Regions from separate parts of the Homo sapiens genome. Here region 2 is linked to region 1. The links come from fine-mapping of genetic effects on gene expression. Tissue or cell type: whole blood. Region 1 holds a variant in brackets; the other region holds the start of a gene. All regions are shown on one strand. Distances are from middle to middle.

Region 1 (4,158 bases):
ATCTAGCCTCCTCTTGTTTCATGAGGTTCTAGGTCTGAACTGGCTCAAGCCTAGGAAGTAAGTGAAGGTCGATGACTGTTGTGCTGATCCAAGTCAGGTGTCTGTAAAGGCTTAATGACTCACTGATACTGATAAAGACTTTAGTGGGCGGTCTACCTATTTCAGTCCATAGTCACCATCATCATTACTCAGGGTCAAAACCTCTATGGTCAAACCATTCTCATTACTGTTGTGGCCCTGGGCCTGTTACAGTGACAACTTCCCTGTCTATGACAGGGTTACATGCTGCCATCTGGTCCTGACCATTCCCACTGAGTTAAATCCTCTTTTCTTTCTCTTCTTTCTTTCCTTCTCTTTTCTTTCCTTTTTCTTTCCTTCCTCTCTTTCCTTTCCCCTTTCTTCCTTCCTTCCCTTTCCTTTTTCTTTCTTCCTTCTCTCTCTCTCCCCCTCCCTCCCTTCCTCTTTTTTTTTTTTTTTTGAGGGGAGTCTTGCTCTGTCACCCAGGCTGGTGTGCAGTGGCGTGATCTTGGTTGACTACAGCCTCCATCTCCCAGGTTCAAGTGATTCTCCTGCCTCAGCCTCCCGAGTAGCTGGGATTTACATGCACCTGCCACCCTGCCTGGCTAATTTTTGTATTTTTAGTACAGACGGCATTTCACCATGTTGTCCAGGCTGGTTTCAAACTCCTGACTTCAAGTGATCCACCTGCCTTGGCCTCTAAAGTGCTGGGATTACAGATGTGAGCCACTGCGCCCAGCCTAAATCCATTTTCATAACAGTCTCTCCTACTTCCTTTGATAGACTATATAAAACAGCCACTACAGAGTCTTTCCTGGACGTTACTATTCCCTCATCAATGCACTTCTCTAAGCCTGGGTGAAAGGAGTGCCCTCTTGCACCTCCTGAACCTTTGAATCCATTCTCTGTTGTAAAATCAGGCAATTCTGCATGTCAGCCTCACTCAATGGAGGCCATGACCAAATATAGACTTCCATTAACAAGCTGCTACTGCAACTAGCACAGTGAATCCACAGCCTGCCATGTGTGCACTCATATAACAAACCCAGTCCAATCCAACATTACATTATCTCTAGTTGAACAGCCTTAGAATCTGCTCCCTTTCATATCACCCACACTTCTGCCAACAGTAAGCTGGAAAAATCTTCCAATTATTTGGCACTCTCTCTCTCAGGTCACACTTTTCCCTCATTTCCCAGGTCTCCTGGAGTTTCACTACAGGAAGCAATCAAAGTTGGTCGATATTGGGAACAATCCACACTCCCCTGCAAAGTGACAGCTTTAAGAATAATGTGTGTAGCTGCAGGTAATTGATTTTGACGTAGTTTTCTGCTATATTATACTTACAATCAAACTTCTTTTCTCCCCCTCTCCATGAACACTGGACTTGTTTTTTTTTCTTTTTTTTTTTTTGTTGCTATTACAGGAACAGCTGCTATTAAACATTTTGGGACACATCTTCTAGTTCTCATGCAAGTACATCCCCAACATGTATGTGCAGGAGTGGAACTGGGTTGTGGGTTACATAATTTTTTTTTTGAGACGAAGTCTCGCTTTGTCGCCCAGGCTGGAGTGCAGGGGCGCGATCTCAGCTCACTATAACCCCCGCCTCCCAGGTTCAAGCGATTCTCCTGCCTCAGCCTCCTGAGTAGCTGGGATTACAGGCTCCCACCACACCACCTGGCTAATTATTTTAGTAGAGACAGGGTTTTGCCGTGTTGGCCAGGCTGGCCTCAAACTCCTGACCTCAGGTGATCCACCTGCCTTGGCCTCCCAAAGTGCTGGGATTACAGGTGTGAGCCAGTGCATCTGGCCAGGGCTAATTTTTAACTGTATTAATAATGCCAAAATATTTTCCAATGTGTCATACCAATTTCCACTCCTATCAGCCGCGTATGAGAGTAACTGTTGCTAAATATATTTGGTGTCATTCTCTGTCAGATCTTTAATTTTTGCCAACCTAGTGAGGGTAAAATGACATCTTGTAATATCATTTTGCATGTCTGTGATTAATAATGACCTTTGCCCCTCTTTTCATACAGGTTGGTCATGGGAGGGTTTTGGGTGATGAAGAAGCCTTGGCAGGTTTCGTGGCAGAGAAAAATCCAACTAAGTCATGCTGCCTGGAGAGTCAGGGCCTCATAAATTGGGATTAGAGGCAGGAGTTTTAGTCCTAAAGATCTTACAGATTCCCAACCATACAAAGTGCCTCC[C/T]ACCTTACATGAAAATGGGCAATAATGGAATCCACTGATTACATTTTAATGTTTGTGAATACACATATAAAACACACATTAACCTTAACAATTGGTGGGGAAGATTGGCAGCACAGGACTATGCACAACAAATTAGCAGGCACTAAGGCAGAATATCTTTTACAGCAGAAAGACCAAATCTGTCCCTTTCTGATGCACATCTTCAGTTTTGGGTCATGAGCTAGTGGTGGAGGTCAAGGCCAAGGTCAACCTAAGAAGTCTACAATAGCATGCATCAATGGAAATGCTGCAGAACAAACATGGAGGAAAAAGTAAAAATGCTCTTGTAACCATCAACACCTGCAAATATGCCACTTACTCTTTTTCTCTTGTGAGTGCAGTGAGCATGACTAAACACAGTAGCTCTCTGGGAAGAGCAAGAATAAAGGAGTCTTCAGAATGAGTTGTAAGATATGTATGATGCTTACAAAGTGGAGTTCACAATTGTCCTGTTTAATGTCAGTCTCCTTATTTTAAGAATGCTTCAGGTGACAAAGGCCTGTGTCAGCAGTATGGATCATGATGAGATTCCTGGAAGGCTGAACCTCTGCTGGTACAGGCATAAAACTCCTCCAGAAATGGCTTCTTTTTATTAACTAAAGAAACTGAAAATGCCTTTCTCCTCTCAATTTTAATGTAAGTGGTTAAGAAGCCAGGAGAGGCCGGTGTGGTGGTACACAGCTGTAGTCCCTGCTACTCATGAAGTTGAGGCAGGGGAATCACTTGAGCCCAGGAGTTCAAGGTTACAGTGAGCTATGACTGCACCACTGCACTCCACCCTGTGCAACATGATACAGCATGATACTGTCTCAAAAAAAAATGCTAGGAAGTACCAAGTGTATGATTGCTCTATGCCAATCATCAAATAGAGCAGAGACCATCTAGCTCCCAACCAATATTAATGCCATCACCAAGCCAAGTAATTAGGAAACAGAAATTTGACTTGAATAGAGAACATTAAAAGCCATGATAAATAAAATTCAGTATGATTTGGATGAAATATTTAATGGAAAATAAAAACATATTCCAAACTGATAAGGTTAATCTGGAGAAATGTTTTAGCCATAAAACCCAAAACCGGATTTGAGTAAATACCGAGGTTCTTAGTTAAGTAAACACCTCCATCTTATGTAAACAGGTTTAAAACAAAAAAAATATTATTTTCTGATTTGGTTGTGTAATCGTGGGCCTCAGAGGAAAAGCTTCCTAACCCTTTTGTCATATATATATATATTTTTTGGAGTCTTGCTTTGTGGCCATGCTGGAATGCAGTGGTGCAATCTTGGCTCACTGCTACCTCCGCCTCCTGGGTTCAAGCAATTCTCCTGCCTCAGCCTCCCAAGTAGCTGGGACTACAGGCGTGCACCACCATGCCCAGCTAATTTTTGCATTTTGTAGAAATGTGGTTTCACCATGTTGGCCAGGATGGTCTTGATCTCTTGACCTCGTGATCTGCCCACTTCAGCCTCCCAAAGTGCTGGGATTACAGGTGTGAGACACCGCGCCCAGCCTCCTTTTGTCATCTCTTGATGGAACCTCAAAGAAGAGATCCTTGGGGGAAACTGAATTTCTTTTTGCTTCCTTCTTAAAAGTTCTTCTCTAGAAGAAGTTGTAACTGGGTAACAAGCTCTAAGTCCCTGGATCAGCCTGCAGGCAAGAGAGCTGGGTGAATTGACATTTAAGTTTTGACTTAACTTCAGGAGATTAAGGTTTCCAGCCACCTCAGGAAAAGCCATGAACTCTGTTCTTGCAGTGTAACATAGCTATCTGTGATGGGTAAGTGAAGCCATAAGCCACAGGCTCCCACCCTTGGACATTTTCCTGATTTTTCTTCATGACAACATATCTAGAAGACCCATCTACCAAATCCTGTTTAAGTAAAATGTAC
Region 2 (4,158 bases), 79 kb after region 1:
TATCTTCAGTAGAGAATTTCCCCTGCAAAGAGCATGTACATTTTGATTTTACCTGTCCTCAGACTGACCTTTCGCTCATTATAATAGTAAAAAACAGAGCCCTGGTTGGAGGTTTAAGATGCTAATAAGACATGTGACATGTACGAACAATCATATACCAGCATGTAGAACAAGCATTGTATGACAAGAAGCATTGTATGAACAAGCATGTAAGAACATACAGCTACCGCACATGTGCACTCAGAGGACCATCCAGAACATACTCACTAGTAGCACCTCTTCCCAATTCCTTATGAATAATCATGTAAGACCCCCATAAAGGGAGTCTCCCTCATGCGTCTTTGCTGCCCCAACCTTATGAGCAGCTGGCCCTCAATCCTCTCTCTCTCTCTCAGGGTGTACTGTCTATTGTTCACTTAACTTTCCAAATATTCTTTCTCCTTTGTAATAAATTACTGTATGCCGCATCTCCTTTACTGCGTGTCCCGTTTAAATTCTGCGTGTTTTTTTTTTTTTTTTTTTTTTAGATGGAGTCTCGCTCTGTCACCCAGGCTGTAGTGCAGCGGTGCGATCTTGGCTCACTGCAAGCTCCACCTCCCGGGTTCATGCCATTCTCCTGCCTCAGCCTCCCGAGTAGCTGGGACTACAAGTGCCCGCCACTATGCCCGGCTAATTTTTTGGTATTTTTTAGTAGAGACGGGGTTTCACTATGTTAGCCAGGATGGTCTCAAACTCCTAACCTCGTGATCCGCCCGCATCGGCCTCCCAAAGTGTTGGGATTACAGGCGTGAGTCACCGCGCCCGGCCAATCCGCCGAATTTTGGGAGTAATGTATCACACTGCAGTAAATAACTATCAGTGATGACCAAACTGTAACCCTTCGAGACCTTGCAGACCAGGCAGCTAACACTTCCCACCCCACCGTCTCAGGAAACACCGCTTTCCACTCCTGTGTCCCCGAAAGGAATCATCAGACATCTCGGACTCTTACCTTCTCAAGCAACACAACCCACCCTCCTGGCATAGCCCGTTGCCCCCCTGAAACCCTACTCAGCCTCACCTCAACCCCTACGCAATTCCTCTCGGTTGTCATGCCTCCATCGGCGGGGGTCGAGTGTTGTGTGTGACCCCAGGTCTCTAGCAAGGTATAGTGGGAGGGAAGCATCCAGGGGAAGAGAGGTGGTGGGATGGGGCTCTCCCTCTCCCCCATACCGCCACCCTCCCTCACGTCCATATCCTGTCCAAGGCTCTTCCCGCGTCTGCTTCTGAAACCCCTCCACGTCCCTCCACCCCATGTGCCCCACTCGTTACACAAGAGCAGAGAGATCTGCAGAACATACGTCTACGATTATGCCACTCTTCAGATTTACATCTTGCAGCGACTTCCCACTGCGTTAGAACGGAAGTAAGCCCATGACGGGGGCCCTCCCAACTCTCAGACCTCACCCGAGCCTCCACGTCCCGAGACGCCGGCCTCTCAAACGACCGCGCCCTGACCCTCGCTCTTCCCCATTTCCCAGGGTCTTTGCCGACCACCCTCTTGCGCCGTAGCTGCTCACGTGCTGTTTACTTGCTTTTCCCTCCCCACCAAAAGGTGAGCCTTGAGAAGACACACCCTCGTGGAGAGCTTTGAACTTTTATCCGGAAAGGTGCCGGGCACGTAGTCAGCGCCCGCGATCACTCGCTCACAAGGGTTCTTCCGAGACCCCTCTTCAGCCTCTTCCCCGAACCCCCAGGCCCCGCCCCAGCCCCATCTCAGCTTCGTCCCAGGCGCGTCCCAGCTTCGCCCCGTCCCAGCTTCATCCCACCCCAGCCGCGCCCCGCCCCGCCCGCTCCCCGCCCCGCCCGCGCCCCGCCCGCGCCCCGCCCCGCCCGCGCCCCGCCCGCGCCCCGCCCGCGCCCCGCCCGCGCCCCGCCCGCGCCCCGCCCGCGCCCCGCCCGCGCCCCGCCCGCGCCCCGCCCGCGCCCCGCCCGCGCCCCGCGGAACCTAGAGTCGCAGGCGCGTTCTTGAAGGACGGAATTCGGCGTCGGACTCTGCGCCCCGCGTAGTTCCGGTGGCGACTGCGGCGCATGGCGGTGAGCGGTGTGGAGAAGACGCGCGGGTGGCTGGGCCTTGCATTGTTGGCGGCTCTCGGTGACCCTCGTGCTACCCCCCTTTCTCCAGGCCCTGGGACATCTTGCTGGGGAGGCAGCGGCGGCCCCAGGCCCGGGTACTCCCTGCGCGTCCCGCGGAGCCCGGCTTCCCGGCCCAGTTTCCAGCGCCCGGAATCCTTCCACTGTCTGTCTCTGCCCAGAGCAACCTACGTGCAGTAACGCTGACTCCAGAGCGCACCCGTTGGGCGATGAAGGCGGCACAGCGTCGAAAAAACAAAAGAATAAGAAGAAAACGCGGAACAGGGCCTCTGTGGCAAATGGAGGCGAGAAGGCCTCAGAGAAACTCGCCCCAGAAGAAGTTCCCCTAAGCGCTGAGGCCCAGGCAAGGGCGGGCTTCGGTCGGGAAGGGTGGAATCCACGGGTGCGAATCCACGGGCACGTGTGATCTGGGGTCCGCGGAGTTAAGGCGGGGAGGGGCATGGGATGGGGCCGGCGGCTATGGTTTTCCAGTGCCCTCTCACAGCCACTTCCCCAAATCCATCACAGGCACAACAGTTGGCCCAGGAATTGGCTTGGTGTGTGGAGCAACTGGAGCTGGGCCTCAAGAGGCAGAAACCCACCCCGAAACAGAGTAAGGGACCCTTCTGTAGAGCTGGGGGATGTGAACAGTGGCACTGCCTGGCCTGCAGGTGCTGGCAGAGTATGGAGTTGTTGGCTTTGCGGCGGGGTGGTAGGAGGTCAGTAATAGAGGTGTTCACTAGTCCTTTATTTTTATTCGCAGAAGAGCAGGCTATTGGAGCAATCCGAACCCTGCGCAGCAAAAGAACGCCCTTGCCCCGGAAGAGGCAGCTGATGCACTCCTTGTTTGGAGACTATAGGGCTCAGATGGAAGCCGAATGGCGTGAGGCCCTGCGGGCTCTCAGAGCTGGTGAGGAGCTAGCCACTGGTTGATTCAGGAAGGCCTAACTTAAGGAGGAAGTGTCTAGGGGGTGAAAGGAAGAAGGCCCAGAGCAACAAGCCTGGTGGGGGAAGGAGATGGGCTCAGGGAAGCCTGAGGGAGCAGGGAAACAGAAAGCGTGGACCTCTCTTTCCTCTTCCTAGGACTGAACCTGGGAAGCAGCGGGGAGGCCCTGGGAGGAGTGGGAAAGAGCATGGTCCTATGTTGGTCCTGCTCCTGGGTTGGGGAAAGCTGCCTCATGTCTTTGTGTCTTGGCTTTCTCTACTAGCAATGAAGCCATATCCCATAACAGTTTGAGTGCAATTCCTGGGGCCAGATCAGCTAGGTTCAAATCCTGGATCTACCACATAGTAGTACTAACACCTTTTGCAAACTACTGAACCTCTCTAAGTGGGGGATGATAGTAATATCAACCTTACAAATTTGAGGAATTAATCAGTTAATTTATGCAAGGTGGTTAGAATTGTATGGGCAAACATAACTGTACAGGTAATGTTAATTGTTATTATTCAGTTCTGACATACGCTGCTTCTCTCCCCGACAGCTGCTTATTCAGCCCAGGTGCAACCTGTAGATGGAGCCACCAGAAAGAAGAGCCAAAGGGTCTGCAGGCCTCGCTCTATATGGAGAGCCAAAGCCACTCTGGACATGCCTGATGAAGAGTTTAGGTTCAATTTCTTTTAGCGTCTCCCCGAACCTGAAACAATCCCCCTCCCTTGGGGTGGTGTAGGGGTTTGTTTTGAGTGCAGAGCCTTTCCAGGACTTCTGTTGTCAGAGAACCCTGGAGTTGGTCTGTCCCTGGCTGGTCCAAGGATTTGTAGCTGTTGTGAAGGTGTGAGACCATCAGATAGGCAAAAGACCCCGTTCGTTTTCTGATGAAATGTTCTCTCTTTCAGAAGAGAGAGAGAGGTGCATTTAGAAAATATGCAATAAATTGAAGTGAGTGTTCAAAGTATTGTAGAAGGAATATTGTACTCAGTCTTTAGGATTAGATTAAGTGGCTGTTGGTAACAAAGATTAGTGGAGAAGCTGTATAATCGTACACTGGTTTTCACTTTTGAAAGGAATCCCTGTCAAATGGTTTAGTGCTTAATGCTGTTATGTCA

Evidence for each region. PIP is the estimated chance that this variant, and not a neighbour inherited with it, causes the effect.
Region 2: C8orf33 starts here. The variant in region 1 is fine-mapped to the expression of C8orf33 in whole blood (TOPMed, PIP 0.91).

What each region holds. Positions count from the first base shown.
Region 1 is chr8:144,971,333-144,975,490 of GRCh38, forward strand. It overlaps the pseudogene ZNF252P. Among named protein-coding and RNA genes, the nearest start is that of ZNF16, 23 kb to the left of the region's middle. The variant C/T (reference allele first, on the strand shown) is at 2,232.
Region 2 is chr8:145,050,422-145,054,579 of GRCh38, forward strand. It overlaps C8orf33 (chromosome 8 open reading frame 33), which reads left to right and starts at 2,046. Exons shown (of 5, transcript NM_023080.3): 1 at 2,046-2,076; 2 at 2,165-2,476; 3 at 2,641-2,725; 4 at 2,876-3,022; 5 at 3,597-4,158. The coding sequence starts at 2,071. The coding sequence ends at 3,736. RefSeq lists enhancers at 1,472-1,601, 1,642-1,691, 2,620-3,420 and a silencer at 1,902-1,971.